7 linked regions of the Homo sapiens genome follow. The protein of the gene in region 5 interacts with the protein of the main gene of each other region in a pairwise test. Each region holds a gene or a part of one and is shown on either strand. Other genes may lie near its edges. The genes, in order: TRAPPC6A, ADCY4, TRIM10, POLR2J3, TTC23, MIPOL1 and GRIPAP1.

Region 1 (3,831 bases), on a different chromosome or scaffold from region 5:
GTGCAAGTTCCTCTGGGCTCTCCTTTCCTTGTGCATCCTTGGGATGTGTCCGCTGGGTGAGCTCCCGGGTCTCCGTGGGCCCAGTGTGAGTGAGTGTGGGCCCGTGTGCGCCCTGTGATGGGATGGCGTTCTGTCCAGGGTCCATTCCTGCTTTTGGCCCTGCCAGGACGGGCTCTGGCCACCCAGGACCCTGAGCTGGAGGAAGCGAGTAAATGTCTTACTGGTTTTTTGTTTTTTATTTATTTTTTAAGACAGGGTCAGGGCCGGGCGCGGTGGCTCACGCCTATAATCCCAGCACTTTGGGAGGCCGAGGTGGGTGAATCACGAGGTCAGGAGATCAAGACCATCCTGGCTAACATGGTGAAACCCCGTCCCTGCTAAAAATACAAAAAAATTAGCTGGGCGTGGTGGCGGGTGCCTATAGTGCCAGCTACTCAGGAGGCTGAGGCAGGAGAATGGCGTGAACCCGGGAGGCGGAGCTTGCAGTGAGCCGAGATTGCGCCACTGCACTCCAGCCTGGGCGACAGGGCGAGACTCTGTCTCAAAAAAAAAAAAAAAAAAAAAAAAAAAGACAGGGTCTTGCTGTTGCCTGGGCTGCAGTACAGTGGCATGATCATGGCTCACTGCAGTAGCGACCTCCTGGGCTCAGATGATCCTCCTGCCTCAGCTTCCCAAGTAGCTGGGACACGGGTGCATGCCACCACACCTGGCTAACTTTTGTATTTTTTGTAGAGAAGGGGTTTCGCCATGTCGACCAGGCTGGACTCGAACTCCTGGACTCAGCTGGGCGCGATGGCCCACGCCTGTAATCCCAGCACTTTGGGAGGCCGAGGTGGGCAGATCACCTGAGGTTGGGAGTTCGAGACCCGCCTGGCCAAAAGAGAAGAAACCCTGTCTCTACTAAAAATACAAAATTAACCGGGCGTGGTGGCTCATGCCTGTAATCCCAGCTACTGGGGAGGCTGAGGCAGGAGATTCACTTGAACCCGGGAGGCAGAGGTTGTGGTGAGCTGAGATCGCGCCGTTGCACTCCAGCCTGGGCAACAAGAGCGAAACTCCGACCTCCCAAAGTGCTGGAATTACAGGAGTGAGCCACTGCGCCCGGCCTAATCTTTCTTAAACGTATGTATAGCTCACATTTATTTCAGTGTTTAATATTTCAAGTGTTTTCATCCTTATTTAGAAGTTTGGTGATGTGTTTGTACCAGAAATATGGCATTGGAACTTCACTCTTGTTTATGTTAATTAACCTGCGTGAAATTGGTTTCATCATATGTCATTTTGCTTAAAGCCATAGTTTCCAAGAGCCTGTTGACAGCATTAGGTAAGGACTTACGGTGTCCTTTGTTGATGCACGTTGTCTCATCAGCCAGTCTGTTAAGCACCACCCACATGCCAAGCTCTGTGTTGGCTGCTGAAGGCCGGATGTGAATTGGTCAGCCTGGGTCCCCACCTTCACAGAGCTGTGTCCTCATCCAGGGACAGTGTGCAGTGGGCAGGGCTGGGGACGCAAGCTGGGAGGGAGGAAGGGAAGGAAGTCGGTACAAAGGCTCAGAAGTCTGAGCGAATGTCCTCAGGGGGCAGAGGAGAGGGTGAGGGAGGGATGGAGGCAGCTGGGCCCGCAGGCTGCAAGAAGCCTTCCTCGGACACGCTCTCCAGGCTGGGAGACCCGCTCCAGGGCTGGAGCCAAGCAGAGAATTCGCATCCCCATTCGGATGGCTGCGCTGATGGTGCAGCCCTGGAGGGAGGAGGCGGTAGCTGCCATTCCCAAGGGAAGGTGGGGGTCAAGGGCAGGAGAGGGAGGGCTGCAGGGCTCAGGCCTGGTGACTGCAGGCTCCTGAGAGCAGCCAGCGGGAGGGTGAGCTTCCTTCAGCTCAGGGCTGCACACCTGCCGCCTCTGTTCCCCCACTTCTGCTCTGCCAGGCTTTCTCTGAAAAACCTGGCGCCTCACGCCCCAGCCGTCCTGGGATTTCTGGTGCCCCCCAGTCTGGGCCTCCTCCCTTCCTCTGCTTGCAGCAAAACACCCGAATGAAAAAAAAAAAAAAAAAGATCCATGGCCAGGTGCAGTGGCTTTTGCCTGTAATCCCAGCACTTTGGGAGGCCAAGGCGGGCGGATCACTTGAGGCTAGGAGTTTGAGACCAGCCTGGCCAACATGGTGAAACCCCATCTCTACCAAAAATACAAAAATTAGCCGGGTGTGGTGGCACACAGGCCTGTAATCCCAGCTACTCGGGAGGCTGAGGCAGGAGAATTGTTTGAACCCGGGAGGCGGAGGTTGCAGTGAGCCAGCATTGCACCACTGCACTCTACCTAGGCAACAGAGTGAGACTCTGTCTCCAAAAAAGAAAACTCGCCAGGCGCGGTGGCTCACGCCTGTAATCCCAGCACTTTGGAAGGCCGAGGCGGGCAGATTGCCTGAGCTGAGGAGTTCGAGACCAGCCTGGGCAACACAGTGAAACCCTGTCTCTAATGAAATACAAAAAATTAGTAGGGTGTGGTGGCGTATCCCTGTAGTCCCAGCTACTCTGGAGGCTGAGGCAGGAGAATTGCTAGAACCCGGGAGGCGGAGGTTGCAGTGAGTCAGAGATTGGGCCACTGCATTCCAGCCTGGGCAATGAAGCTAGACTCCATCTCTTAAAAAAAAAAAAATCCATGAGCATCTCCTCTCCTCCAGCCATGCCCTCCACACACACAGGCACGTGGACAGACACCGAGTGCAGCCCTCCTACCTGGGGCCTGCCTCTGCCAGCACAGTCCCCTCCTGTATGGACCCTGGCCTACCCTCCAGACACTACATGGCAGCCACTGTCCTTTTCGAGCACCCAAACGAAGATCTGCCTGTCCCGAGCTTCCACGTGTTCCCCAGGGATCTTGGCCAATATTATAAGGCATGATGATCATGGTTGACTTCCACAGCCCCCTTTCCTGTGGCCCAGCCTCCAGCCCTTGGGCAGGTCACCTGGAGCATCTTGGTGGAGTCGCAGCGCCCACTTCCCAGGGCATTGTGAGGGTTCGCGCTGAAAGCACGTGCAGCCTGTCATGGGGGTTATCAGGAAAAGTCATGGAGGAGGAAGGGAGCCTGGGGAAGACCCCCATTGTTCCTGAGGGAAGGGGGAGCTGGTTCTTGGGGGCTGATGATCTGGGGATCCAGAGAGCCTGCAAGGTCTGCAGAGGTGGGTGAGGGAGCCCCAGCACCCTAGAGGCCTGCCCCTGCCCTGGCCGGGCTGTGCCAGAGCCCCTCCCTGCTCACCCCTGAACTGACGAGCACCAGCAAGTTGGTCTTTGGGTCCCCTGGCAGGTCCCCCCCTGGGTGGCCCCGGGTTCGTGGTGGCTAAGGGCCCCTGAGCATCTCTCCCCTGGCCTTCTAGGGACAGAAGATGAGCCTGTCGGTCCTGGAGGGTATGGGGTTCCGTGTGGGCCAGGCTCTAGGCGAGAGGTGAGCGCGGCCCCTCCTGCTCTCCCCCAGCCTGGCTGGCAGGGCTGGGCAGGCCCCGGGCGGGGAGGGTTGCATTGCTCCATGCAGGAGTCGGGCCTGTCTTCCTCCCTCTTCCTGGCCTGGCCCCACGGCCTCAGCTTGGTACTGCCCCACCAGGCTGCCCCGGGAGACGCTGGCCTTCAGGGAGGAGCTGGATGTCCTCAAGTTCTTGTGCAAAGACCTGTGGGTGGCGGTGTTCCAGAAGCAGATGGACAGCCTGCGCACCAATCACCAGGTGGGAGCACCCCGGCCTGCCCGTCCAGCTTCCTCCTGAGGGCAAGACCAAGAGAGTGGGAGGGGAATCCCCCGGCGCCAGAGCAGCGGCTGCCGGGACCCGCCCAGAGCTTTCCCACAG
Region 2 (4,908 bases), on a different chromosome or scaffold from region 5:
CCGCAGGGCGCGCTCCATCAGCGCCTTGTGGTACACTCCTGCCACGTTCCCGCACAGGAACAGCACTGCGTTTGCTGCCAACTGTGGGTGAAGGCCAGCCTCAGAGGGCGCGGGACCCGGGTGCTTGTCGTGTGTAGTTGGAGTTGGTCTCAAAGACTGGCTGGGGAAGACTGGGCTTTACAGTGAGGGACCTAACTATTGTGGGACAAGTGGTGCCACACTGTGGCATCCCTAGGGACGTTTCCCTTCCCAGATGCTCCCTCCTCCAGACTCTCGGCTGCTTCACCAACACGACCTCTTAGGTCTGGAAACGTTTGCAGGTAGGTTTCTTGTGCTTGGAATACCACTCCACTGTCGCTACCCACTCCCATCGCACAAAACTTTTTTTTTTTTTTTTTCATTCTCTGTCAAGGTTTCATTAACCACATCTGTTGTCCCCGGGGTAAACCACGACACGACTCCCTTCCGTGTGGCCTGGATCCCTCTTCTGGTAACAGCAGGCATTGCATCACACTGTTGTACCAGCTCTGCGAAAGCACGGTTGGGTATCCTGCGCCCAGCGTTGCACCTTGACTTGGAGTCACAGCTCAACAACCCCCTAAAAGGAGCCTACTAGCACGTGGCAGAGCCGTCCTGAGCGCAGCCTGTGCTACTTGCGTGCTCACCTGCGGCAGCAGTGCAGGCCGTGAGTCCGGCTGTGGCCCAAGATACAGCCCGAGGACCAGCAGATGCGAGAGTGAGGAGGCGAGGCCCGCGACGGCGGCGTCCCGCATGCCCAAGGGCAGCATGGCATACGCCGTGAAGATGACGAAGAGAAAATAGGACACCTGGGGGCGGGGCGCGGGAAGCCGAAGGCCCAAGTGGGGCTATTCAAGGCCTGGTGAGGGATCGAAGCCCGGGCCGTCCCCGCTGCCCCGCCTGCCGCCCCTCTCACCTGGTCCCAGGCGCTCACCACGCCCCCGGTGAACAGGAAGGCGTGGCCTAGCGCTAGCAGCGCGACCCATACCAAGCCGGACAGGGGACGCGTCCAGCGCTGCAGTCGCTGCTCCCGGGAAGCGAGGCCCAGCAGCAGCGAGAAGCCGCCCAGCGCGCACAGCACAGTGGTCAGGAAGCTCGGGTCTGAGGTCAGCTCCTGTGGGCAGGGGTGTGTGAGGCAAGATTGTGACAGGGAGAAGGAACGAACCTGATAAAGGAAAAGCCAGCAGCCCAGCCCCTCAGCCCAGTTCTGAAAGGTGTCTCAAGCCTAAGTACGAAAAGGAGGCAAGGCACCTCCGCTTGCCATTCACTTTAGGTTGAACCATTTGAAATTGCTTGTGTCCTACTGCTTTTATCTAGACTCAGCAGTCTCGTATGGTTTTTGTTGGTTGGTTGGTTTGTTTTTTGAGACAGAGTCTTGCTCTGTCGCCCAGGCTGGAGTTCAGTGGCGCGATCTCGGCTTACTGCAACCTCTGCCTCCCGGGTTCAAGTGATTCTCATGCCTCAGCCTCCCGAGTAGCTGGGATTACAGGCTCCCGCCACCACGCCCAGCTAATTTTTTTTTTTTTGTATTTTTAGTAGAAGACAGGGTCTCGCCAAGTTGCCCAGGCTGGTCTCGAGCTCCTGGGCTCAAACGATCTCCCGCCTTGGCCTCCCAAAGTGCTGGGATTACAGGCGTGAGCCACAGCGCCCAGCCTCCTGTTGTCCAACCTATTATCTTGCTGGGACAGCTACCCAGAAGATCTGGCTCCCATCCCCTATTTGTTTCTGAGCCTCAGTTTTCTTATCTGTCAAACGGGAACCAAAGCGTCATGAAGCAAGTGAAAGATAGATCCAAGCTCACAAGGAGGCACTTCGGAATGAATGTCTCCAAATCTGGCCAATTTGCTCGGGAGATTCCCGGAGCCGGGGACCGCGGCCGGCAGCTTGAAGGGCGGCGCGAGGCAGCGCTCGAGCAGCAGGGGGCGCCAGGACCCGCGGCGTCCCGCACCTCCCTGGCCACCAGGGCTGCGATCTCGCCACCTGCCTCAACTCCAAGCAGAAGCTGCACAGCCGTCCCAGCATTTTGTCCCCACCTCTTCCCGGATTTAGGCGTGGACCAGCAAGGATTGGCCGCGCCCGGTGATTTTCCCACCTTGCCTCCAAGCAGTGAAAAGAAAACCAGGGGCAGGCCATTTCTAGAATTGGATTGAAGACCTTCTTCCTCCCCAAACAGAAACTGGACATGGGTTTACTTTGGGACTCAGTGAGAGCCCGGTGGAGGGTGCCTTCTGGGAGTCTGTGGGTACAACTGCTCTACATCCCCTAAGAGGGAGAGAAAGGCAGGAAATGAATTCCCCAGGGGCCTCCTAGAATTTCCCCTTTGGAAAACTGGAAAATCCGGTGATGGATTTATTGTAGAACCCGTAGACCACGGATGTTCATAAAGTCTGTCAGAACCCGGACAGAAACGAGAAGCATCCAGGACTCAGCTTTCTCCCTGAGCAGACCCAGAAGGGTAGAGTGACTTGCCCAGGGTCACTGCAGTTCCTAGCCAGGCTCAATGGTCCTTTCTTTCTCTGCTCCCAGCAACGAAAACACATCGAAAAGAAGACCCCACAAACCCCAACCCCGAAAATGCTCCCCAGGTAGAGACCCTCCCGCAGCAGAGGCTCGGCTCACCCTGCCGCTGGCCCAGGCCACTGCGAGCAGCGCCGCGAGCGCACAGAGCACGATCCCCAGCAGCAGCAGCAGCAGCGGGTACTGCTGGCTCAGGCTGTAGTAGGTCTCGTAGAAGAGGTCTTCGCTGGGGGGCGGCCGGGGGCTGAAGAGGCGGGCCATGATCTCCCCAGCCCCGAGCCCCGGGGCTGGCTAGGGCCGGGCGCCGGGTTACCTCCTTCGGCCCGGCGGGCCCCACCTGAGCTTTTCTCACCCGCTCAAAGCCGCTACCACCCCGCGCCCCCAACCTCGTGGCAATCCCGTCTCCTTTTTCAGGCCCTCCCTGCGGCCTCCCAGCCCGCTCCCAGCTGGCGATGAGGGGATCCCTCAGTCCTTTCCTCCTCCTCCCTCAAACCCGGATTGTAGAGGTGCCCTAGAAAAGCCTCATCGCCAGGAGGGCAGGATTTGGGGTTGGTGCGAGGGAGCCCCGGGTTCCCCTGATCCCCGAACTCACTGCCCGCGGCGCTGGCGCAGCGGAGTGGGCTAGGTCCGGGGAGGGAGCCGGGGACCTGATGGCGGAGTCACGCTCGCCGCTGCGCTCTGGCTCAGAGTCCCGGGCGACAGGCGCTTCCCTCCCGGCGCCGCGGCCCCCTCCCACTTCCCCGACGGGACAGCCCGGCCCCTTCCTGTGCCAAAGCCGGACTCCCCTGGTCTCCTCCCGCACTTGGTTTTGTCTCTCCTAACACCATCGCCTCCCCGCTTCAGCCCCTTCAGGGAAGGGCAATGTGGACCCTGGGAGAGATGCGAAGGGGTGGGCTGGGGTGGACCCAATGGGATGTGTCCAAATGGAGGTGAACGTTTGGTAGTGGGGAGACCGAGGGCGGGGGGCTGAAGCCTGGCGAGAATGTAGGGAAGAATGTGGGTCCTGGTGGGGATCTAGGTCAGAGTTGGGGGCGCTCATTCTCTTGACCTCTCCGCTTGGCTGGCAACCACTACCACCGGGTTTGAACTGTTCATGCTCCGTGGGAGGGGTTGCGCCTGTGTATAGCTTTAGGAGCCATAGCTTTCCACTCCCGAACAGCAACTGGGAATCAAAAGGGAAGCAATGTCCAGGAAGCAACCTGAGTGTGTGGTGGAGGCAGGTATGTGGCGTCATGATCTCTAAGAGCCTGGGGGCACCGTGCGGGGCCAGGTCTGTGATCTTTCACATCAACTCATCCCTCGCCAGAGCCCTGCAAGTGAGTCTTGAGAGCCCGGAAGAAAAGGGACCACAGCCTCTATCCCCAGAGTTTAGGGTTAGGGTGGGGTCGCCATCCTAGGCTTTAGAGGAAGCACTGCCCTGAGATTAGAGAGTGGTCTGGGGAACCAGGCCTCTAGGATTCCTTCCTGTTGTAGCCGGCTGTGCCCTGACCTTGTGTGCCAGGCCATTGCCCACTCCCAGCCCCCAGCATCCCCACTTCCTGCCATAGCAGAGCTGTGGTGCCTCCCTATCCCTCACTGGCAGCTCCCACCCCCATCCCAGTCCCTCCCTGCCCCTGGCTGAGCTCAGACTGACTAGCATTCCATCATGTTTATTGACTCCTGGGGGACAGGTCACAAAGTCAGTTTGTGGGCAGGCCAGACTGCCCTAGAAGGAAGTCAGGGGCCTCAAGGGGTGGCACTCTTCCTTAACTCGTAACTCTTGGAGGCAAGCTTGGAAGGTGCTTTATTTCCCGCTATGATTATACCAACCCTGTGGCCTGCTCCAGGCTTCAGGATCTTTAGGGCCTTCTTGCGAACCTACTGGTGGGGGGTGCTGCAAGCCCCTCCCCTTGCCCGAAGGTGCCAAGCCCCATGTGGGCAAGGCAGTTGTCTGTTGCATAGTCAAGTAGTTGTTGTCTCCAACTTGCACCCCAGAGCAGTTGTATATGTTAACGAGCGGTCGCCCTTTAAGAGAAATAGTGATGGTGGCAGGAGGGTTTAGCTGTCAGAAAGGCCAAGTTGGGGGTGGGTGGGGAGTATGAAGTCTCTACTTGTCAGTGGCTGTGTCAAGGTGTGCCCTGTGCTCCTCCCCTCAGAGCTCCTCTCCAGAATTGTGTTAGCAGAAGCTCTAGAGAGTGGCAATTGACATTTGAGACCCTGATCTTTTTTGCTGGGAGGTCCTCTGGACTGCTGAAACAATGGAACTTAGGGGGCTCACAGAGCTGGTGTTGTGGAAAGTTAGAAGATTCAGGGACAAATCCAAGCTTTGTTGTGTGACCTCAGAGGGCTCCTTTCTCAGGGGGTGTCGGTTTTCCCATTTATGAAATGAGAAGG
Region 3 (4,313 bases), on a different chromosome or scaffold from region 5:
ACAGGTAAAGCCTGAAAAGCCTGCCTCAGAGGATGTGAAAGCTCTCGTTTAGTTCAGTGTGGTCCTCGGGAAAGCTCTTCTGCTCACCGCAAGTTGGCTGGTTTCCAAAGCTGTGCGTGCCAGCTTGGATCTCCTGGGGCTGATATACCACATTCTCCCCTCCTCCCATCTCTATCCCACAGTGCAGCGACATTTCTCCCTTCAGTCCAAACTTCATGATTCCTCCCTGTTTTCCTCCCAGGGCACTGGTGACTCATTTACAGTCTTCCCTCCTGGCAGGCTCTCTGGCTCACCCCTGGGTTATTCACTCTGCCTCAGTAATTCTGAAACTGTCAGAGTCTGAGGACCACTTTTTACCACCAAAAACTGCTGCAGAGCCTTGCGTTTTGTTACTTTTAGTATTCATAAATTGAGAAGCTTCCATAAATTTAGGTCCATCTGTGGGTTAGAGAACCCCCTCCAACAACTCCGTGACTCCCAGGGTCTTAGGCTGGTTGATTGAGAAATGACAGCCTTGAAGGGGTCCATTCTGTTCATTTTTTTCCCACCCACAGGCCGCCCTCCTTCTGTCATCTGTGAAATGACATCTGAGAGGAAGCAGGGGTTCCTTACGTTCTAAAGAGGTGATTATAAACCCAGATCAAAGTCCCCTTTATCCAGAAAGCATTCCCAGATGGACTTTATCCCATTCTGCATTAATCTTTCTATCTACTCGACATGCGCAGATCAGGATGTGAGCTTCATACCACGAATGTAGTATGTGTATGTGCTTGTCCTTTCTTCATGTTTCTCCTGAGAGCCTTACAAACAATGTGACACACACACACACACAACCTATATATACACACATGTATTATATACACACACATATGTGTATATATAATATATATGATGTGTATATGTATCCATGGGTGTTTGTTATGACTATTGTCATAGTCATAACATAGTCATAGTGCAAATCCTGCAAAATTTTCTCTCCTTTCCGAGGACTTCTCATTCTCTCCCATCCTGACATAGGCTCCTTACCTGGCTCATAGTCCAACTCAAAGCATAGTTTTTCTGTAAAGAAAATAAACCAGGATGAGATTTTATTAGTCTTACAAAACCATCAGACACTTAATGATGAGAAAACTGAGGCCAAGAAGAGGGAAGGGACAAGAAGAAGAATGTAAGCTGGAATCCTCTAGACCAGTGGTTCCAAGCTTGCATCAGAATCATCTGGAGCTCTTGTTAAAACACATCTGTTTCAGATTCAGGTGCTCTGGGGTGGAGCTGAACATCTGTATTTCTAACAATTTCCTGGGCAATGCAGCTGCTGCTGCTGGTGGGAGCCCCACTGCCCTAGCCCTGATCAAACAGGGACCATGACTGCCTTGCTCACCTCTGTACCCGCAGAGCCCAGGACATAGTAAATGCTCAAGAAATATCTGCTTAGTGAATAGAGAAATGGGTTCATTTATTTATTATTCCACTTGGAAATAATTTTGGGGAGAGTCAAAGGTCAGCCTTTGATTAGAGTGAAATTTCCTTCACTGACAGGTCACTGGAAGTATTTGCAGGAAATGGAATTATGGGAAAAGTCCTTCTAGGGTGACATAACTGTGGGTGGGTCATTTCAAAATTGGTGTCATCATTCATTCTGTCATGGTTAGTGAGGAGGTGGTTGGCAGAGAGCCATGTCCCATTCCTGACTCTCATCCAAACCCTCCCCCACACCCTACCACCACTCCCTGTTCCGGAAAAGGAAGTGGAGCACAGTCCCCGTAGGACCGTCTAACTCTGAGCCAGACTAACAGAAAGAAAGTGAGAAGGAAGGAGGGACGAGCCAGATACCACAGGGTCAAGATAAATACTGTTGTTGGCTATTAATTAACAATGTTCATCATCAAAAACTTATCACATATTACAAATGTTGCTGTGGGATTTTTTAACTTATTAAGAATGATATATTGTTAATCATTATCTTTCATATTGCTTAATGACCACTAATCAGATTTGTTGAATTATTTTAAAATCAGTTTAACTTTTTCACCAGAAATATTCACCTTTATTCTCTTTCTTCATTGTCACAATATCCTAATAGGCAGATTTTATAAAAATCTGCAAATAAGGAAATCAAGGCACAGGAAGGAATAAGGCTTGCCAAAGTCACACCTTTCAGCAGTGGAGCGTGGAGGCCACTCCTAAACCCAGGCTTCATGGCCACCTGCGCTCTGTGGAGGCCTGGGGTTCTCTTACCCAGAAACATCTTCATCTCCCTCTGCAGCGGGAGGGCCTGCTGGGGAAAGTCCCGAATCCTCTGGCCCAGCTCTGGCGACACAGCCACCGGTTTCCGGCACTTTCTGGTTTCACATCTAGGGGCACAGAAATGGCTGGGTCTGGGAATTATCATCCTTAATAATGTCTCCAGACTCAGCTGGTCATCTTCTAATAGGGCATGATGGCGCTAGTTCCTGCAGGCAGACGTACTTCCTCTAGGATGAATCCCACTGCCCATTTTTGGGCATCTATGGATATACCTGAGAAGGCATTTGGGTATATAGAGGTTTATATGTAAATTTGTATCCTTAAGTGAGAATGTTATATACCTGTGTGGCAATAACTAGGCATGCAGTACATGTATGTATATTTATATGGAAAAAGAAAAGAGAGAAACTATATTGCTTACCTTATTAGAGTGCTTCTGATGTCCTAGGAGAAAGAGATACCAGAAATTCAGTTTCCAGCTTCTCCTTTCCATTTTTCTTTCCTTTCTTTTTCTACTTTTATTTTATTTATTTTTTATTTGCTTGTTTGTTTGTTTGAGAAAGGGTCTCACTCTGGTGCCCAGGCTGGAATACAGTGGCGTGATCATGGCTCACTGCATACTCAACCTCCTGGGCTCAAGGGATCCTCCTACCTCAGCATCTTGAGTAGCTGGGACTACAGGTGTTTGTCACCATGCCTGGCTAATTTTCTTTTTTTTTTTTTTTTTTTTTTTGTAGAGATGGGGTTTTGTTATGTTGCCCAGGCTCCTCCCACTTTTCTTATGACTGGAAAAGACAAAATATATTTCTAGCCCTGGACAGGAAAAGGATACCAGATGCATAGAGTCACAGAGCATTAGGACTCACCCATCTCTGTGGATCAGAGCCCAAAGCCTTTATTTTTTAGATAAAGATGGTGAAGTGACCTTCCCCTGCTCACTGGAGGCAAAGTAAGTCTCATACCAAGGTCTCCTGTTTCTCAGTCCTAAGAGCATCATTCTAAGTCATGCTGCCTTTCCAATACTTTGTGGGGACCCCAATACCTCTCCTCCAGTGTGAGGAAGTGAAATAGACCAGGACAAACTTCCTGACTGGTGGTTGGTGACATTTAGGTTATAGAGAATGGTTTGCAACTTACTTAATACTTTTTCAAAGTGCTACTTTCACTTCCATCTTACTGTTGGATCCTCACAAAAGCCCTGTGAAATATTTAAGGAAAGTATCTTCCCTATTTGGCAGATGGTGGGACGGAGAGGTGGAGACCAGAGAGCAAAAAGTGACCAGGGAACTCTTGGAAAAGCATGAACTAGAATTGAGACTTTCTGGTCCTCTGACCCACCTCCCATCTGGGATACAGAGATGTGTGAGTCAGGGAGACATGGCTTAGGCAAGACAAAGATGCAAGAGTCACAGGACAGCACAGGTGGGGCAGGGTTCCGGTTCAGGCCTCACCGTCAGGAGCTCCCTTGCTGGCCTCTCATTCTTCTCCTCCAGTTCTTCAATAAGAGCACTAAACCGGCAGATCTCCCCAGCAACCAGCAAATCAAATTCATCCCGTTGCCTCAAGATGTCCCCATCCTGGCTCTCCAATTGTGCTAAGAGGATGCTCTGCTGTTCCTCTAGAAACTTCCTCAGGTGTGCGAACTCAGAAATCACCTGTTGTCTCTTGGTGGACACCTGAGTCTGAGGGGGCAGGAGGCAAGCCCAAGAGAAAGTTTGCTTCCTCCTTCTCCCTCTGCTCCTCTTCCTCCCCTGTCCCCAGGTAGATCTGGAACTGTGTCATGGTTTCCTTTTCACTTGTCATCCCATTTCGAGAAGCAAGACTCACAGTGTTGTCTCAGCACCATCTGCTGCAGCTTCTAAAAGGGGTAGGGCTTACAGGAGGTGTAGGAGGAGGTGGTGGGGACACCCTACCTCCTGTCTTGTATGAAAAGCACATTATGTGCACAGCCCTGAGCTACTTTACAGTCACAATCTCATTTAATGCTTACAGTAATTCAATGAGGTCATGATGATTTTTACTCTCCATTTTACAGATAAGTAAACTGAAGTTGGAGAGTTGCTTGA
Region 4 (4,047 bases), on a different chromosome or scaffold from region 5:
GGCATTGACGTGGGCCATGGAAAGGCCTAAACAGATGACTGCAGTTCACTGCCAAGGTCATCAAAGGGGTGACTCTGAAATAATAAATTTCAGACGCCATGGCCCAAATAGCTGCATGAGGTGGGGAAGTCCTCCACATGCCTCTGCTTCCTTCGGTACCTGTTTATGAAATCAGCCGAGGTACTTCCCTGGGGAATTTCCTTTCTTTCTTTCTTTCTTTCGAGACGGAGTCTTGCTCTGTCGCCCAGGCTAGAGTGCAGTGGTGCAATCTCGGCTCACTGCAACCTCTCCCTCCTGGGTTTTAGCAATTCTCCTGCATCAGACTTCTGAGTAGCTGAGATTACAGGTGCATGCCACCATGCCCAGCTAATATTTGTAGTTTTAGTAGAGACAGGGTTTCACCATCTAGGCCAGGCTGGTCTTGAACTCCTGACCTCGTGATCCACCCGTCTTGGCCTCCCAAAGTGCTGGGATTACAGGTGTGAGCCATCAAGCCCGGACCTTTTTTTTATTTTTTGAGACGACGTTTCACTCTTGTTGCCCACGCTGGAGTGCAATGGCACGATCTCAGCTCACTGCCACCTCCTCCTCCCAGGTTCAAGCGATTATCCTGCCTCAGCCTCTCGAGTAGCTGGGATTACAGGCACCCAACACCAAACCCAGCTAACTTATTGTATTTTTAGTAGAGATGGGATGTCACCATGTTGGCCAGGATGGTCTTGAACCCCTGACCTCTAACGATCCACCTGAATTGGTTTCCCAAAATGTTGGGATTACAGGCACAAGCCACTGCGCCCAGCCCCTCCCATACCTCTTTTGGCCAAGGCAGCACAATTCAGAAGAATCTTGCCAGGGAAGACTGGTAAATGGATGTCAACGTGATGCCTATGGCTCCTGGTGGATTTAGATACCTCCTGGTGCTTATTGATATCTTTACCAGTTGCACAGGGGCTTTTCCATGCCAGACTGAAAACGCAGAAGATCAATGATCAACCTTCAACTATTTACTAGCAGAACACTGAGGGGACTGTGCGGTCACCAATACCTCCTATTGCACTTGGATAAACACCTCCCAGGAAATAGAGATGAATAGAAAGGACATAGTCAAACAAGCAGAATGGCTGCATTCCTTCAACCAGAAGGGTCCATTAGTCTGTTTTCACACTGCTATAAAGAACTATGAGAAACTGGGTAATTTATGAAGAAAAGAGGTTTAATTGACTCACAGTTCTGCAGGCTGTACAGGAAGCGTGGCTGGGGAGGCCTCAGGAAACTGACAATCACGGCAGAAGGCGAAGGGGAAGCAGGCACGTCTGGCCATGTTGGAGCAGGAGAGACAGAGAGAGTGAAGTGGGAGGGCTGCACGCTTTTAAACAACCAGATCCCACAAGCGCTCACTCAATATCACGAGAACAGCAAGGGGGAAGTCGGCCCCCATGAGCCAATCACCTCCCACCAGGTCCCTCCCACAACACTGGGAATTACAATTTGACATGACATTTGGGTGTGGATACAGAGCTGAACCATGTCAAGGGTAGTTCAACCGCTGAGATTGATTGATTGATTGATTGACTGAGATGGAGTCCTGCTCTGTTACCTAGGCTGGAGTGCAGTGGCACAATCTCGGCTCACTGCAACCTCCGCCTCCCGGGTTCAAGCGATTCTCCTGCCTCAGCCTCCCGAGTAGCTGGGACTACAGCACATGCCACCATGCCTAGCTAATTTTTGTATTTTTAGTAGAAACAGGGCTTCACCATGTTTGCCAGGCTGGTCTTGAACTCCTGACCTCGTGATCACCCTGCCTCGGCTTTTCTTTGCTGTGGCTCTTTCCCCTCTAAACTGTTCTAGATTCCCAGGCGCCCTGCTAGGAACAGGTGTGGGCCACCCTGGGGTGAGCTGCCTCCCAGAGGCCTGGAAGGACCAGGCCTTGCCAATCACCGACAAGGGACGTAGAAGAGCACCCCCAAAGGACAGTAGGTCCCCGCCCGGATCTGGCCCACAGCACCCGAGGGACCCTGCAGCACTACAGAAGTCCCATGGGGCAGACGGGAGCCACAGGCCCAGACTCCACAGCCCCTCAGTCCACATGTCCTGGAGCCTGTGGTGGAAGTCCCTGTTCTTCCATCACCGCCGCCTCTCCCTGAGGACCTCCGAAGAAACAGGCCAGGGCTGTCCCAGGCCTGGGCACACGGGCCAGTGTCCAGCCCACCCCGTCTGCCCCTCCAGGCCCCGCCCTCACCCGGAAGCGCTCCTCCAGCAGGGACAGCTCACTGATGAGGTCGGTGATGGCGTTGGTAAAGGCTTCCTGGGGGCTGTAGTCCGGCGTGGTCTGCACTCGGATGATGATCTTGTGCTCCAAGGGGTGGGGGACTTTGTAGCCAGCAAATAGCACTTGCGGGTCTTTTAGGAGTTGTCTGAGGTCCAGGGACAGACAGTGTGAGGGTCTAGCCTCATGCCCAAGCTGGGTAGCAGCCAGCTCAGAGCAGAAGAACAGACTTTCTAGCCAAAAATCCCCCCCAACTTTTTTCCCAAAAAGTCTTCAAGGAAAGTAACACTTTTAGGAAGATACCTCATGTGGGGACACCCTATCCCCGCCACACACACACACTCTGCATCCATGAGGTTGAAGGACCCGAGCTGGAAAGAGATTCCAGCAACCTCTTCCCACCGGGCACCGCAGTGCTGGCAAAGAGATCTCCCAGGCAGTGAATGTCCAGCCAGTGTTCAGTGACTCAGACCCAAAAAGCCCACAAAGAGCCTCCACGCAGCAAATAAAGGCAGCAGGAGAGGAGGGCCAGCTCCCGGCAGTGAGTGGAATGCAAATGGAACTCTGCCCTCCGAGCAGCACAGCCGCCAGCGGCTGGCCACGCACACTGGGCCTTGTGCCATGGGGCTGCATCGCGTACTGTGCCCTGGGCATGCAGGGGTCTCCTCTAGAGTGGCTCAGAGTGGCGTGAGCACCACAAGGGGGACCCGTGCATAGGTGGCAACACTGAGCTCAAGAGCAGGGGAGCAGCAGGGCCCCAGGAGAGCTTGGGTGCCCCACTGGCTGGGCTCCGGGCAGGATTCCTCCATCCCCGTGCCTGACCACACCAGGAGACTGGGCAGACCCCACTCACAGACGGGGAAAAGCCTGGCTTCGCTGGTGGCACCAGAGGGAAGAGCCAAGTCTACAGTAAAATGGCAAGTCCCTGGGCCAGAATGGCAGACACATCCCTGACCAACCACCTGGCTAGGACCTCACTGGTATAAACAAACACCCACCAACCAATGCAGGGTGCCCATTAGGGGCACTGGATAGCCACAGAACTCCTACTTCTTTCTCTTGTTAAATAGAAGTTCTAGTCTCTGCCACATACATCTTAGAGGCCCAGGTGGCACTGAGGTCACAAACGGGTGGCATGAGGGGAGCTAATCTTGACTGCTTTTCAATGTCCCTCAGCATGAATAACAAACAGGCCTACTGTGCTGGAATCTGCTGCTCGTTCATTTACAGAATGTGCACTTAATGGTGAATGTAAGGCCGGGCGCAGTAGCTCACGTCTCTAATCCCAGCACTTTGGGAAGCCAGCAGGTGGATCACCTGAGGTCAGGAGTTCGAGACCAGCCTGGCCAACACAGTGAATCCCCGTCTCTACTAAAAACACAAAAATTAGCCGGGCATCGTGGCGTGGGCCTGTAGTCCCAGCTACTAGGAAGGCTGAAGCAGGAGAATCACTTGAACCCGGGAGGCGGAGGTTGCAGTGAGCAAGATCGTGCCATTGCACTCCAGCCTGGGCAACAAAGAGAGAAAATTCCATCTCAAAAACAAACAAACAAACAAACAGTGAATGTAAATGCACGTGTTCATCTACAGAATAAGCCACTACAGAAGTGTGGCTTATGTGAAGACATGGAGGTCGGTGTCATTTTGATAAAAAGGTACCAAGATTATAAAATGCCCAGAGCAAGCCCCCAGAAGGACTTCCTGTAGCTCAGAGAGACTGAGGAAGACTTGGAACTTGTGCTTTGCCCAGAGGGGCCCATTAAACATAGCCCCTGAGAGCC
Region 5 (4,429 bases):
CCTTTCGTGATCATGGATTCAGATGTGTTTAAGATCTTTCTCCTTTGAGGCTTTCATCATAAACTCAACCTGTTGAAGCATTTTAGACTGGAGCAGGGCAGGGAAAAAAGGAAGGGAGGGAGGAAGAGAAGGGTGTAGGGGCTGGGGGTGAGGAGGGAGAGCAGGTAAAACGAAAGTCAAGAGAATAATGATCAGAACTCTGGGACCCAGGGCACTCCACAGAGAGTGAAAAGTGTCACTGATGGATGCCCTGGTTGGGGCTGCTCTGACATGACTGTGTTCCTCTTTTACTTTTACACAGTGACCTCCAGAGAAGCCATGGCCGCAGCCTCATGGAGATGCTCCTCCTACCTGAGACAGATTCTACAGGCAAAGAGCCTCCCGCCATCATGTATGCAAAATCCTAAACTTGAAACTTACTGTGCAAATGATAATCTGATCCGTGCTTCAATTTCTATCCATTCTTCCTTTATAATTCTTCCACATTGTAGCAGCTCCTTTGAAAGTCTCTCTGCTTTTGTCAAATTCTCTGCAGCTTCCTTAAATCTGAATTGTGTTCAGGAAATTTTCCACTTGGTTCTAGATTCTACACCCCATGTCCTGAACTTCCTTGGCTCCCATACTTCCAATCACACTTCCTAAGTCATCCATCAGCATCAGCTTTTTACTTGGCGTGTAAGTGTTACGTGAATAGTATTTCTATTTGTAAAAGTTAGAGGCAAAAGGATACTTTTGAAGGGAGAGTAAAGCTCTGCCCATGGTATGGAAAAGCTCAATGGAAAACTTGAAAACATCTGTATTCTCACTATAGGGAGGCACAATGGAGTTGGCGAGGATTTGTCTGGCTTTTTCTGCATGTTGTTTTGCTTGCAGTGACAGTCCTGTGGACAAAGAAAAAGAGGTCTCAGTTTCTCTATCATCTCAACTGGACAGGAATACAGTTCCTTATGGTCTGGGAATCTAACAAGGTCTCCTTCACATATTGTCAAATGACACATGGAGACGTATCTGGGCAGCATGAAACACTGCCATGACTGTAACAACCAAAGAAGTGTTTTATACCAAGTACCCAAGATAAATTTTCCCCCAAATGGCCTTTTTAGAAATAAACAAAATGAGCTGGAATTGAACAGCTTTGAAACCTCACCAATAGCAGAAGCAAAATATGTTACATATAATTATAAGAAACAAACTGAATACAAGAACTATAGCATTCTGAGCAGGAAATAAAATATTCATGAATTTTAATCCTGGCTGTGTAACTGCAATCTTAATGAAATACTAAAAATTCTGAATCTTCAGCTCACCCACCTATAATCATAATGTCAGAGAGTTATTTTTTTAACATAATACATATCTGATATCTACAAAAACTTACAAACACAATTCCAGTGAGGTAACAGATTAATGTGTGACAATTTCATCTTCCTATGTGGTAAGAGACTAATATGAAACAAAGTGGAGCAAAAAAAAATCACTACTAAGAAAGAATTCCCCAGTGTGTTCCAGTGTTCCTCCACGGGCTTGTTAATCTGTGGGAAGGGAGGACTGAGATCGCTAGCACGGCTTCAGGGCTTTGCACGTCCCTGTATTCCCATCCTCCTCCCCTACACCGACAACCACTTCCACTCACATACACACAGCCCCCATCTTATGTTCTTAGTTACACAAAATTGTATCTTAGATCTCTAAAAAAATCTGTCAAAATATGAAGTTAATTCTGTTCCTATGTCTATAAAACAGGAAGAATATATTTTCTAATGGAGAAAATCAAGGGTATGTGTTTCATGTGGGAATTCTTACACAAGATTGTCTTATTACATATTTTTAAAAAGCACAGACATGTATTAGTGCCACCTGTGCTTGTGATGTTACACAAAGCATGTTGGACTGTATTTTCAACTGTGTCGAGTCCCTGAAGGAACCTGAACTCAATTTACTGGAGGCAGCATAGGGTGAAGTTCAAGAACATTGGCTCTGAAGTCAGACTGCCCAGGATGGATCCCCTGCTCCACCACTTATTATAAAACGTTGGCCTCAGCTTTCTCAGCTGTAAACAGGGATATTAAAAATACCCACCTTTGAGGACTGTGGTGAGGACTGAATAAGGTTATGCATGGAAAACAACATGCCTGGCACCAAATGAGACTTTAATAAATGGTAGATACTACTTTTACTTTAAATTGAGAAAGAAGGACTGTCACGCAGAGAGGCAGCAGGCTGTATAAGAAAAGCATCGTCTGAAACCCCAGATGGCAGGACAAACTGGCATTGAAAACCTAGGTCTGAGTCTCAGATCAGCTACTTATTAACAGTGTGGTATGGGGAAAGCTGTTCTAACTCAGACTCATTGTTTTCCCTGAATCTACAAAATGGGGTGGGAGGGCAGAGTTTAAATTAGATAATCTCCAAGGTCCCTAAGAGCCTTTGATCTAATAGGTAGGACCAGTCTATAATCAGATTTGGCCAAATTTATTGGGTGGCAATAATGAATACGCTTGGTATAGAATATGCTTGGCATTTGGTGTTTTCCACTTCTATTATTTTCTTTATTCACTGGGCCAACCCTGGAAAGTTAGCATCACCATTACCATCATCATCACTTTTCAGCTGAAGAAGCTGAGCACAGAGATGCTCTTGTCCATCTTGTCTTAGGCTGCACAGTCAGTAAGTAGAAGCCATCATCATATCCTGGGTGTCTATTGTTTTTGCCTCCCCTGCACGCATTCTCCCCTCTGTTTCCCTTTTGGGATGCCTGGCTCCTGCACATCCAATCCATGAGATGTGGCGAAGGCCTGCTTCTCCTTCAGGATCCAATGAAGCCAAAAGAAAGGTTTAGCCAATCAGACTATTCCTTGCCTTTGGTATACAACCCAAGTTGTTCCAATTAGAACCCTTCCCAAATCCCGGGATTTTGGTGGAGGGACATTCTTTTCCTCCTGGGAATGCTTATAAGGGAAGTCTAAAGTTGCAGGCAGTCTTGTTGCCACCATGTGGGCAAAACCTGGCAAAGAATGGAGCAAATACCAAGAAAAACAGAGCCAAGCAGTGGGAGAGAGAAAAATTGAATCCTGGTCACATTGTTTGAACACTGGATATGGCTAAGTCTAAAAATTTTTTCCCTTGAATTTTTAAGTTGTATGAGCCAAAAACTTTTGTTTATGCCAATTTGGGTTAGTCTTTTTAAATTTTTTGGTTATTTACAGTCAAGAGATTCTCCAATAAAAGTGTGAATGGATCCCATTCTGGGCCCCTATTCCATACCTTGGGTTTTTTCCTACAAAGTCTTCTGGCCCAACAGATTAATTTTCTCCTAAGAACCTTACTTTTGAAATCATAAAAACAAAAACAAAAACAAAAAAACCAGAAAAGTTAAAATATTTTTTCCATTTTTCCCCTTTGAATGTTTACAGGTTATATACCTTATCAACTCTTTCTAAAAAGAAATGGCTTCTTGGTATTTAGAAAGGAGAATATTAAAAAACCTGATCCTTCTAATTAAGTGTGAATCAAATTTTGGGGAGAACAGCAGAAATCGACCAACTGATCCCCCTCAGTCTAAGGCGAGCTTACCTTTCAGCTGGAGGTAGCCTTGAGCCAGATTAACATGTGCCTCTGCTAGTTTCCAATGTGAGTCTCCATAGCAAATTCTTGTCAGTGCTACGCAACGCACAAGCTCATGGACGGCCTGTTTGTACTGTTAGGAAGAGAAAACAGGCTTACCAGTTATACAACTTAAGAGTCACAAAACACAAAATCAATGCGCTTTTATATCCCTTTGATAAATACTGAGTGACTACTATGTGCAAAACATTGTTCTAAGCACTTGAGATGTATCAGAGAACAAAACAGACAAAGATCTATTTGGGGTGGTAGCATGTACATCTGGTAAGATGAAACAGACAATAAACATAAGAAGTACAATTTATAGTACATTTAAGGGTGAAAAAAAGAAATAGAATTTAAAAAATAGAAAAAGTAGAGCAGACATCTAGTCATTCTCTAGGTTTCCCAGCTGCCCACCAATGAACAGCTACTACATATGCAGGCACAACAGGGGCAAATGGTAGTGTTTTCAAATAGTACACTTTGTGTGTGTGTGTATGTGTGTGTGTGTATGAGACAGGGTCTCACTCACCTGGAGTCACCCAGGCTGGAGTACAATGGCACGATATCAGCTCACTGTAGCCTCGACCTCCAGGGGGCTCGAGCAATCCTCCCACCTCAGCCTCCTGAGCAGCTGGGACCACAGGTGTGCACCACCACACCTGGCTAGTTTTTTGTATTTTTGGTAGAGATGGGATTTTGCCATGTTGCCCAGGCTGTCAAATACTATAGTTTAGCTCTCAATTCAAAACTTTCCTTAGCCATCTGCACTAGCATAGCAAATGAGATCAGCAGGACTTACAGACTTGATTAAAGCAGCAAG
Region 6 (4,429 bases), on a different chromosome or scaffold from region 5:
TAAAACAGTGTGCCCACAGAAAAGCAAATGAAGAGATTGATAGTAATCATACATTTTTTCCTGTTGTTTAACTCTGAGAAAAGAAAGTCAGACTTCATAACTTTTGAATGATGAAGAAGAGATTGACAGTTTATTCTTTAAGTCCATATGGATAAATGAAGTTGAATAGTATTAATTCAGTTAGTCATAATGTTAGAAGAGTTAACAATGACACTGATTAAACACTAAAGTGGATTACTAAAGAGAGTTTCCGTTTCAAACCATATGAAAGAGATAGAGGAATCAACAGGATGGTTTTAGGTTTAAGTTTTCATCTGCCTAGAGATAAGAGTTTGAATCGAAAGTGAATATCTTTCTGTTTAACATTTGTCTTATCTTTTAAATTGACTAATATGCAAAACAGACCAATAGCTTCACTTTAATGGCATTTTATTGGCTTGTGTTTATATTTCTGTATGCAGTTCTTTTTAAAGTGATGGGGCAATACAAATAAGCTCAGCTAAAGCTCTTAGTAGCTTCGTCTCATTATTGCTTCATAAAGATCCTTCTCCTGGGCTGGAGAGTTTAGGGAAAATAACTGAAGTCTGAACTTAGAGTTACTAACTGCTTTCATCTTCTCTTGGTTAGAAAAGGTACTAATTCAGAAATAAATTTGGGCTATGAATAAGGTAAAGAAAATTAGGCAAAATGCAAGATGATAGAGCAGTATCTTAAAATTTGTCTTGAAAAGTCAAAGTGTTTCATGCCTGTTGCTTACTCACTAATGTTTCAGAAAAAAAAAAATTGTAAGGTCAGGCATGGTGGCTTATGCCTGTAATCCCAATACTTTGGGAGGCAGAGGCAGGAGGATTGCTTGAGCCCAGGAGTTTGAGACCAGCCTGGGCAACATGGCAAGACCCCATCTCTGAAAAAAAAAAAATTAGTGAGGCATGGCAACACAGCACACAGCTGTAGTCTCAACTATTCGGGGGGCTGAGTTGGGAAAATTGCTTAAGCCCGGGAGGTCAAGGCTGCAGCGAGCCATGATTGTGCTACTGCACTCCAACGTGGGTGACGGAGCGAAACCCTCTCAAAAAAAAAAATTGTGTAGATAGTTATAGAAAGAATGGTTAATAAAGCAAGCATGATAAAATGTTAATATTTGGGGAGTCTAGGTAAAGGGCATACAGTAATTCTTTGTTTTGCAACTTTCTTATGAGACAAATTATTTCAAAATGAAAAGGTACAAATGAAGGATTATCTAATGTCAGTTTTTGTCGGCTTTCTCATTTAGCTTGCTTCTGCAGTCATTGAAATCTTTGATGTTTGGCTCTCATTTCTTCTCTCCATTTTCTGCCATTTTTCTGGATGACTTCAATGCCTTCAAAGGTGGTACTTTCAGCACTTTGACTTTTTGATTTTCTCCACTCCAAGTATGTTCACTTTTAATTTATTTCATCAACTCATTTCCAGATGAGCCATACCTTGGACTTTGTCCTTAATACTGATTTTAGAAATTTTCTTCCGACTATAACATCTTGTCATTTCAATACAAGAAATGTCTCTTCATTTTTCCTAAATTTATTTCTTCTCCTCTATATCTATTCCTATTCTTCCTATTTTTATAGTCTATTAACTTTTTATTTCATCTAACTCTGGCTATCCTTTGGCAGTTTGCTACTTCGCATATCCCTACTTGACCTTTTTTGGAGCAAATGCCTTTGTGAAGTCTTCCTAGAGTCTTCCAGGTGAGCATTAGTATGTCTAGCATATTGTATGTATTTGGCCTCCATAGCCCAAGCATAGTCCTTATTATACTGTATTCAGATCATTAGATGAGTTTGCCATCCTCACTGTACTAGAGAGTCTTTGAGTGGAGTGTTTGTTTCTTATTCATCTTTGTTTTCCCAGTAGCTACCACAAGACATACCACACTGTAAGTTTTCAATGAACGATCAGTAAATTAATGAATAAATAAATTAGAAGAGTCAAACTTTTTATACAAATGTTTGAATACTAATATAGTGTAACGCAGGATGGCAGAGAGGAGAGCATTGAAAGCCTTCAGAGGATTTAACATTGATTTGCTGGAATCATACTTGCCAAAATAGTTGGTCAAAAAAACAAGACAGGCAGGAAAATTTTTATAAGTCAGCCATGTGTATTCTAAAGTAAAATTAAATTCTCAGACTGGGAGTCTGAGGTGGGAGGATTGCTTAAACCCAGGAGTTTGAGGCCAGCCTGGGCAACACTGCAAGATCCTGACCTAAAACATTTTTTTTAAATAAATTTTCAGTAGAAGAGTATGGATAGTCTGATTTGCAGAGCAGGCTCCAAATTTCTGATGAGCCTTTTGAAATAGAAATCTGAAAGCTTTTACTACTGAACAAAATGAGAAATATCCAGAAATAGAGCCATGTCACACAGTATGGGTTCTTTAAAAATATTAAACATTTATAATTAAATTTTAGAATGGAAGTCTGGAGTGTGTCAGAAATTGATGGATTTATTGTAATAAAACTTCAAGGGGTTATAATTACTAAGACCCAGGAGGGATCAACACAGAGTCTTCTTATTAGGAAGCTCTTATTGGGAAGCTTCTGCATCTCCTCTAAGATTGAAGAAGATAGTGTGGTCACAAGTTAAATAGTGGTAATTTATCAAGAGTTCAGGGGATCACAAAATTTCACATTAGGTTAAAGCCAAAGAAAGAGAACTATAAAACTAGTAAACAACCATTTACATTTGACAGTTTTAGGAACAGATACATCTGAAGATTACTTGTTCATTCTTGACAGCTCAAAATGCTTACTTGGTTTGCATTAGATGGTCACCATGCTAGTTTTCTGTAATAGGCTGGCATTAGTATAATGAAACTCTTAAAATCTGAATGACAAAAGTTTATAAACGGGCACTAAGGAAAGCCTCTATATCATTAACAGACCATGCTTTCTAACACTAACATAACATTGTAAGTAACTCAAATGAAAAGCAATCAGAAATAGTTACTGAAAGCATTATCAAAATAACAAACATTGCCCCTAGGGACATATTTTTAAAAAACTCTTAGGCCCCACATTCTTCAGTTTATGAAGTGCCATATTTCTTCAAAAGGAAAAAGGATGGTCCATGGACCACTGCCAACTATAAAAGCCCCCAGGTCCCCATGACAGCCCCACAACTGCTTCAGACTCTTAAGTCCCAACTCTTTTTGGCCTATTTGAGACCAAATTTACCATTATCTACAACTTATCCCAATGCTTATCTGATTACAGTAGGAGTAAGACTAGAAACTATATGTTTAAAGCTAAAGAGTGTTTCCAAAAATATTTATTTGACTGAATGATTTAATATGCAGTTATGGTGTTTAATATATCATGTGTTATTTGTTTGTTTAAATACAGACATAACCCACAGTTATCTTGAACAAGAAACTACGGGGATAAATAAAAGTACGCAGCCAGATGAGCAACTGACTATGAATTCTGAGAAAAGTATGCATCGGAAATCCACTGAATTAGTTAATGAAATAACATGTGAGAACACAGAATGGCCAGGGCAGAGATCAACGAATTTTCAGATCATCAGTTCTTATCCAGATGATGAGTCTGTTTACTGCACTACTGAAAAATACAAGTAAGTGCTCACAGCCTTAGATTTAGAAGGAATTGGGGCCAGGCGTGGTGGCTCATGCCTGTAATCTCAGCACTTTGGGAGGACGAGGTGGGTGGATCACTTGAGGTCAGGAGTTCGAGACCAGCCTGGCCAACATGGTGAAACCCTGTCTCTACTGAAAATACAAAAATCAGCCAGGTGTGGTGGCACATGCCTGTAATCCCAGCTACTCAGGAGGCTGAGTCATGAGAATCGCTTGAACCTGGGAGGCGGAGGTTGCAGTGAGCTGAGATTGTGCCACTGTACTCCAGCCTAGGCAACAGAGCAAGATTGTCTGAAGAAAAAAAAAAAAAGAGAAAGTTAGAATTGGAAGAACTTTTTCTCCCTCCCTTCTTCCCTTTCTTCCTCTTTCCTTCTTTCTTTTTGGTGTTGGCTAATTCTAAACTTATTAGAACTTGGCGAATCTACCAGGGTTTTCTACTGTTTCCATGGTATGGATATAATATGTCTAGTTAACTAAGTGAAAAAGCACAAAGTGCATCTGAAGAAAGACAGGTTTAATTCTATTTTATTCAATATTATTTTCTGTGACCTTTCTTTATGTATTTGGAAATAACTGTTAAATTGATATACATGACATATCATTCATGAAAGTAAAAAACTGGCAGCTCCAGGACAAGGTAAGCCCAAACATGCATTTTGGTTTGGGTTAGCGCTATTTTTCATTTAAATGAATTTGATGCTTTTAAAAGGGCCTTGTTCTCTACCATTTGCATTCCTCATTATTTTACTTTCTCAGCTTTTACCCAGTAACCTTGCCTACCTAGCTCATGAA
Region 7 (4,429 bases), on a different chromosome or scaffold from region 5:
CCATGGAGGCTGGAGGCAGGAAGCAGTGAGGAGTCAGTCAGTGAAGCCAGCAGTTATGTGAATACCAGGGGCTCTGAACTAGGAGCAGGACTGGGGCACTGGAATGTATTAAGTAAAGGAGTGATGTCATAAGATCTGCAGGTCAGAACAGCCTCTGTGGTGTGAACTAAGTAGAAGAAACTAGAAGTGAAGAGACCAGGGAGGCGGCTGTAGAAACAGCAGATGATAAGTGGTAGAGGCTAAGGCAAAGCAGGGCCACAGGGTGGATATAAAACTTTTTTTTTTTAAATTGAGACAGAGTCTTGCTCTGTCGCCCAGGCTGGAGTGCAGTGGTGCAATCTTGGCTCACTACAACCTCCGCCTCCCGGGTTCAAGCGATTCTCCTGCCTCAGCCTCCCGAGTAGCTGGGACTACAGGCACGTGCCACCACACCCGGCTAATTTTTTGTATTTTTAGTAGAGACGGGGTTTTACCACGTTAGCCAGGATGGTCTCCATCTCCTGACCTCATGATCTGCCTGCCTTGGCCTCCCAAAGTGCTGGGATTACAGGCCTGAGCCACCACGCCCGGCCATAAAACTTTTAAAAAGTCAAATATTTTAGAGGGAAGATGAGTTAATAGAAGGATAATATTATAACTAATGCTTCCATAGCTGATACTATGTGCAAGGCTCTGTTTTAAGTGATTTACGTACATTTATTCATTTAATCCTCACAAAAGCCCTGTGAAGAGGCAGGTACTGTTATTATCATGACTTCCATTTTAAACATTTGGGAACCAAGAACCAGGCAAGTTAAGTAACTTCCTCAAGGTTACAGTTAGTAAAAGGTAGAGCCAAGATTTTAATCTAGGCCTTCTGGTTCCAGAGTCCCTGCTGGTACCTACTACTTGCTCAACTGCCTCTCCTGGTATTGTACCTGCTTAAAGGTTATTTTCGGTTTTGTTTTTTTAAGGTCATAGGCACTATATTCTCAGATGGAGCCTTAGAAATACCATTTTTGGGCCGGGCGCGGTGGCTCACGCCTTTAATCCCAACACTTTGGGAGGCCAAGACGGGTGGATCACCTGAAGTCGGGAGTTCAGGACCAGCCTGACCAACATGGTCATTTTCTCTACTAAATGTCCTCTCCCACCCATGTCATTTTCTCTCATCTCTACTAAAAATACAAAGTTAGCCAGGCATGGTGGCATATGCCTGTACTTCCAGCTACTTGGGAGGCTGAGGCAGGAGAATCGCTTGAACCCAGGAGGCAGAGGTTGCAGTGAGCTGAGATCATGCCATTGCACTCCAGCCTGGACAATGAGAGTGAAACTCCATCTCAAAAAAATTTGCTGCCATGAGACTTTTTTCCTTAAAACACACTAAAAACATAGACAATTATCAACTGTGGATACAGAAGATAGATGAGGGAACAAAAGACAATGTCTCCAACTGCCCAGTAGATTTAGAAACAGACAGGACACTAAAATCAATGGGGAGATAGAATTAGTAGCTCCAGGATGAATTATCTGGAAGAGGTAGAACCCCAGGCTCATGTCAGATGAAGAGAAGAAAGAGAAAAGGGAAGAAGCTCGAACACTTTTCCATCCTATATTAAGCATAAGAACTCTGCCTAAAACCCCCCAACACCTTGGAGCACCACAGCATCAACCCCACATTATACACATGGAGACTTGAAGCTCAAATAAAAGGAGTGACTTGGCCAGGAACCAGGTGACCTCAGGGCTCAAAGCCTTCTAATCCCAGCAGAGTGAGCGGCCCCATCTGTCAAATTACTGCCCCCCAGCAGCAATCCAGGACCTGTTTCAGCACCACGGACAGTGCTCCAGGGCCAGACCCTGTCCAATCACTCTCTGCCGCTGTTAGGTTTCAGCCCAGATGACCCCTACCCCTCATTTCCCCTTTGACTATCCCAGGCACCAGCACCTTGCTGAACTCGGCCATTAGTGTGCTGTTCTGCAAACGGAAGTCCTCCTCCTGGCTGTGCAGCTTTGCCTGCAGCATCTCATTTTCACTCAGCAATACCTCGACTTCCTGCAGTGGCAGACAAGGGCCAGGACTCCAGCAAGGGCAAAAAGGATAGGGAGGTAGGGCAAAGAAACAGAGAGAGGGAGAAAATGACATGGGTGGGAGAGGACATAGGGTACAGAGAATGAGGTGATATAGGAGAAAGAGACATGGGGAGGGATAAAATGAGAGACAGGGAAAGGAAGATAAAGACATGGGAAGGTAGAGAGAAGGGAATACAGGGAGGAAGAGAGCGGAGGAAAAGACAGGAAGATAATGATTGGGGAGAGAGGAAGTAGAGATGGGGAAAGGGGGAGAGATAGAAAAGGGGAGAGGGATTGGGAGGGAGAGAGTGAAAAAGACGGAGAGAAGAACAAACAGAAATCAACAGGGAGAGAACAGAACAGGGAGAAGAGGAGGGGTCAGGAAAAGAAATGAGTTAGGAAGAGAGAGGAATGGGGTGGAAGAAACAAGGAGTTAGAGAGAGAAAGCAGAAAAAAGAGAAATCACCGAGACAGGAACAGGAGGGGGAGAGACAAAGAGAAGATTGGGAAGAGAAATGAGTCAGAGAGACAGGAACAGGAAAACAGACAGAGACAGAAAGAGACTCAGAGAAAAGAATGGAAAGAGAGAGAAGGAAAGAGACACAGAGTTAGGACAAATACAGGGAAACAAGGACAGATACAGCAACACATGGCAGTGAGGTAGTAGCAGATGTAAAGGCACACAAAGAAAGAAAGGCCAGTACAAGGAAATATCAGCATACAGAAATAGCCCACCAAGACATCTCCCAGTCACACTCACCCACAAGGGATCCCCTTACCTGAGCTTTCTTGCTCTTGCTCAGTGCCTAAAGTGGGGGTGGGTGGGAAGAGAGCTAAAGTGAACAGAGATGGACTGCCTTACTAGGATATGGAGACAATTGTGCCAAGCGTTTTGGGAGGACAAGGATGACAGGGGTTGCAGGATGGGAGCATCTTCAACCACAGAACATGTGTGACAATTTGGAGCCCAAAGGAATGATGGAATGAGTGTGTGAGTGAGTGAATGAATGCAAGTCTTGCCCTGGGGCCCCAGCACACATAAATCATCCTTTCTTGGAAGCTCTTGAGGCTGGTGGGGGGACAGGGGAGGTAGGGAGATGCCCTGGTATTTAACCATTTATGGGCTGGATCTCCAGACTCAGAAACTGTGGCTTCATTGCTACATCTGTCCATACATGTCTCTGTGGGTCCCTCCCACGCAGTGTGGAAACTGTCGCTCCCCTACTGGGCAGCCAAGAGCATTGCCAGCTTAGGGGAATCAGCATCCTACCAAAGAGAAGTGCAGCTTCCTGACTGTCGGATTTTCTGCATACTGTATTCGTTCATCCAACAAATATTTATTGAGCACATATTATGTATTAACATTGTGCTAGGTATGGCTAGATATGGGGACAGAGCAGTGACAAAGGAGCACCTCGAATGTCTTGAGGGGCCACAATAGGTTATATCCTATCTCATCTTTAGAGGATCTGAGAGGTGGGTTTGCTCTCATTTTCCCAACTGGACCAGGACAGAGATGGGAAGTAGGAGCACAAGGCAGGAGTGTGAGTAGAGGATGGGAGGCAGATTCGAGGTAGATTTACTGATAGATTTGAATATTTAATTAAAAGTCAGTGAATGAGAATGAGTAACTGAAATTAGAAATGAATTAAAAGTAAATTAAAATTAATCACTAAATTAAGCAGGATTAGGTAAAATTAGCAACTAAAGAGAATTCCATTGAGAATCCTTTAAATGACTACGTGAAAACAGCATGCAACATTAGGTCTGGTTCACTGTAGGTGCTCACTGGAGGGATGAATGAGTCAGATAGGTAGAAGCAAGGGTGGATGGGTAGGTGGATGGGTGGGTGGAGGGAGGTACCTTCTGAGCTTTGCTGAACTCCTTATCCAAGTAGGCGACCTTCTGTCGAAGACTGGTGAGTTCTGGTGTCGGGAAAGCAGGGAAACTCAGCCTCAGCCAGTGGCAAGAAACTGAAAGGCCTTCCTGCCAGGCCTCTGAGGGAAAACCTCGGACACCATTCCCCAAAGCCACCCCCATCTAATAAGGCCCTCCTGGCTCACCAACACCATTCTTGCGTAGTTCATCTGAAAGCTGGTAGTTGTTTGTCCGGAGTTCCAGGAGCTGAGCCTTTGGGGGAGGCAGGAAGGGAAAAGACTTGGTCAGGAAAGCGCCCCTACCCCTACCATGAGGGAACCAAGCCCCTAAGCTCCACAGACCTTACGCCCTCCATGTGCCTCTGTAGCTACTCCTTAAGACCTGTATGTGCTACACCCAAAGTGACCTTCCAGGCCCTCAGACCCTGGCTCACCTTTTCCAGCTCCACTTATAACCCCAGCCAGCCTCACCCCTCCATCTCACACTACAATCCACGCTG

What was found.
Region 1: the proteins of TTC23 (region 5) and TRAPPC6A interact in binary tests that used the Homo sapiens proteins (3 or more experiments, as listed by UniProt).
Region 2: the proteins of TTC23 (region 5) and ADCY4 interact in binary tests that used the Homo sapiens proteins (3 or more experiments, as listed by UniProt).
Region 3: the proteins of TTC23 (region 5) and TRIM10 interact in binary tests that used the Homo sapiens proteins (3 or more experiments, as listed by UniProt).
Region 4: the proteins of TTC23 (region 5) and POLR2J3 interact in binary tests that used the Homo sapiens proteins (3 or more experiments, as listed by UniProt).
Region 6: the proteins of TTC23 (region 5) and MIPOL1 interact in binary tests that used the Homo sapiens proteins (3 or more experiments, as listed by UniProt).
Region 7: the proteins of TTC23 (region 5) and GRIPAP1 interact in binary tests that used the Homo sapiens proteins (3 or more experiments, as listed by UniProt).

What each region holds. Positions count from the first base shown.
Region 1 is NC_000019.10:45,164,733-45,168,563, reverse strand, and holds part of TRAPPC6A (trafficking protein particle complex subunit 6A), read left to right. Parts: intron 1-3,369; coding exon 3,370-3,437; intron 3,438-3,593; coding exon 3,594-3,711; intron 3,712-3,831. UniProt on the Homo sapiens protein: May play a role in vesicular transport during the biogenesis of melanosomes.
Region 2 is NC_000014.9:24,331,857-24,336,764, forward strand, and holds the start of ADCY4 (adenylate cyclase type 4), read right to left. Parts: upstream 3,216-4,908; 5' UTR 2,797-3,215; coding exon 2,638-2,796; intron 1,133-2,637; coding exon 935-1,132; intron 828-934; coding exon 666-827; intron 82-665; coding exon 1-81. Other genes in the region: RIPK3 (receptor-interacting serine/threonine-protein kinase 3), read right to left, coding at 4,319-4,539. UniProt on the Homo sapiens protein: Catalyzes the formation of the signaling molecule cAMP in response to G-protein signaling.
Region 3 is NC_000006.12:30,154,701-30,159,013, forward strand, and holds part of TRIM10 (tripartite motif-containing protein 10), read right to left. Parts: intron 3,930-4,313; coding exon 3,699-3,929; intron 2,692-3,698; coding exon 2,669-2,691; intron 2,355-2,668; coding exon 2,239-2,354; intron 1,060-2,238; coding exon 1,027-1,059; intron 1-1,026. UniProt on the Homo sapiens protein: E3 ligase that plays an essential role in the differentiation and survival of terminal erythroid cells. May directly bind to PTEN and promote its ubiquitination, resulting in its proteasomal degradation and activation of hypertrophic signaling.
Region 4 is NC_000007.14:102,565,771-102,569,817, forward strand, and holds the end of POLR2J3 (DNA-directed RNA polymerase II subunit RPB11-b2), read right to left. Parts: intron 2,415-4,047; coding exon 2,240-2,414; intron 1,314-2,239; coding exon 1,281-1,313; 3' UTR 1,196-1,280; downstream 1-1,195. UniProt on the Homo sapiens protein: DNA-dependent RNA polymerase catalyzes the transcription of DNA into RNA using the four ribonucleoside triphosphates as substrates. Component of RNA polymerase II which synthesizes mRNA precursors and many functional non-coding RNAs.
Region 5 is NC_000015.10:99,218,168-99,222,596, forward strand, and holds part of TTC23 (tetratricopeptide repeat protein 23), read right to left. Parts: intron 3,698-4,429; coding exon 3,574-3,697; intron 882-3,573; coding exon 731-881; intron 547-730; coding exon 421-546; intron 1-420. UniProt on the Homo sapiens protein: Participates positively in the ciliary Hedgehog (Hh) signaling.
Region 6 is NC_000014.9:37,263,555-37,267,983, forward strand, and holds part of MIPOL1 (mirror-image polydactyly gene 1 protein), read left to right. Parts: intron 1-1,652; exon of another isoform or gene 1,653-1,727; intron 1,728-3,383; coding exon 3,384-3,615; intron 3,616-4,429.
Region 7 is NC_000023.11:48,995,323-48,999,751, forward strand, and holds part of GRIPAP1 (GRIP1-associated protein 1), read right to left. Parts: intron 4,183-4,429; coding exon 4,116-4,182; intron 3,978-4,115; coding exon 3,916-3,977; intron 2,859-3,915; coding exon 2,832-2,858; intron 2,036-2,831; coding exon 1,928-2,035; intron 1-1,927. UniProt on the Homo sapiens protein: Regulates the endosomal recycling back to the neuronal plasma membrane, possibly by connecting early and late recycling endosomal domains and promoting segregation of recycling endosomes from early endosomal membranes.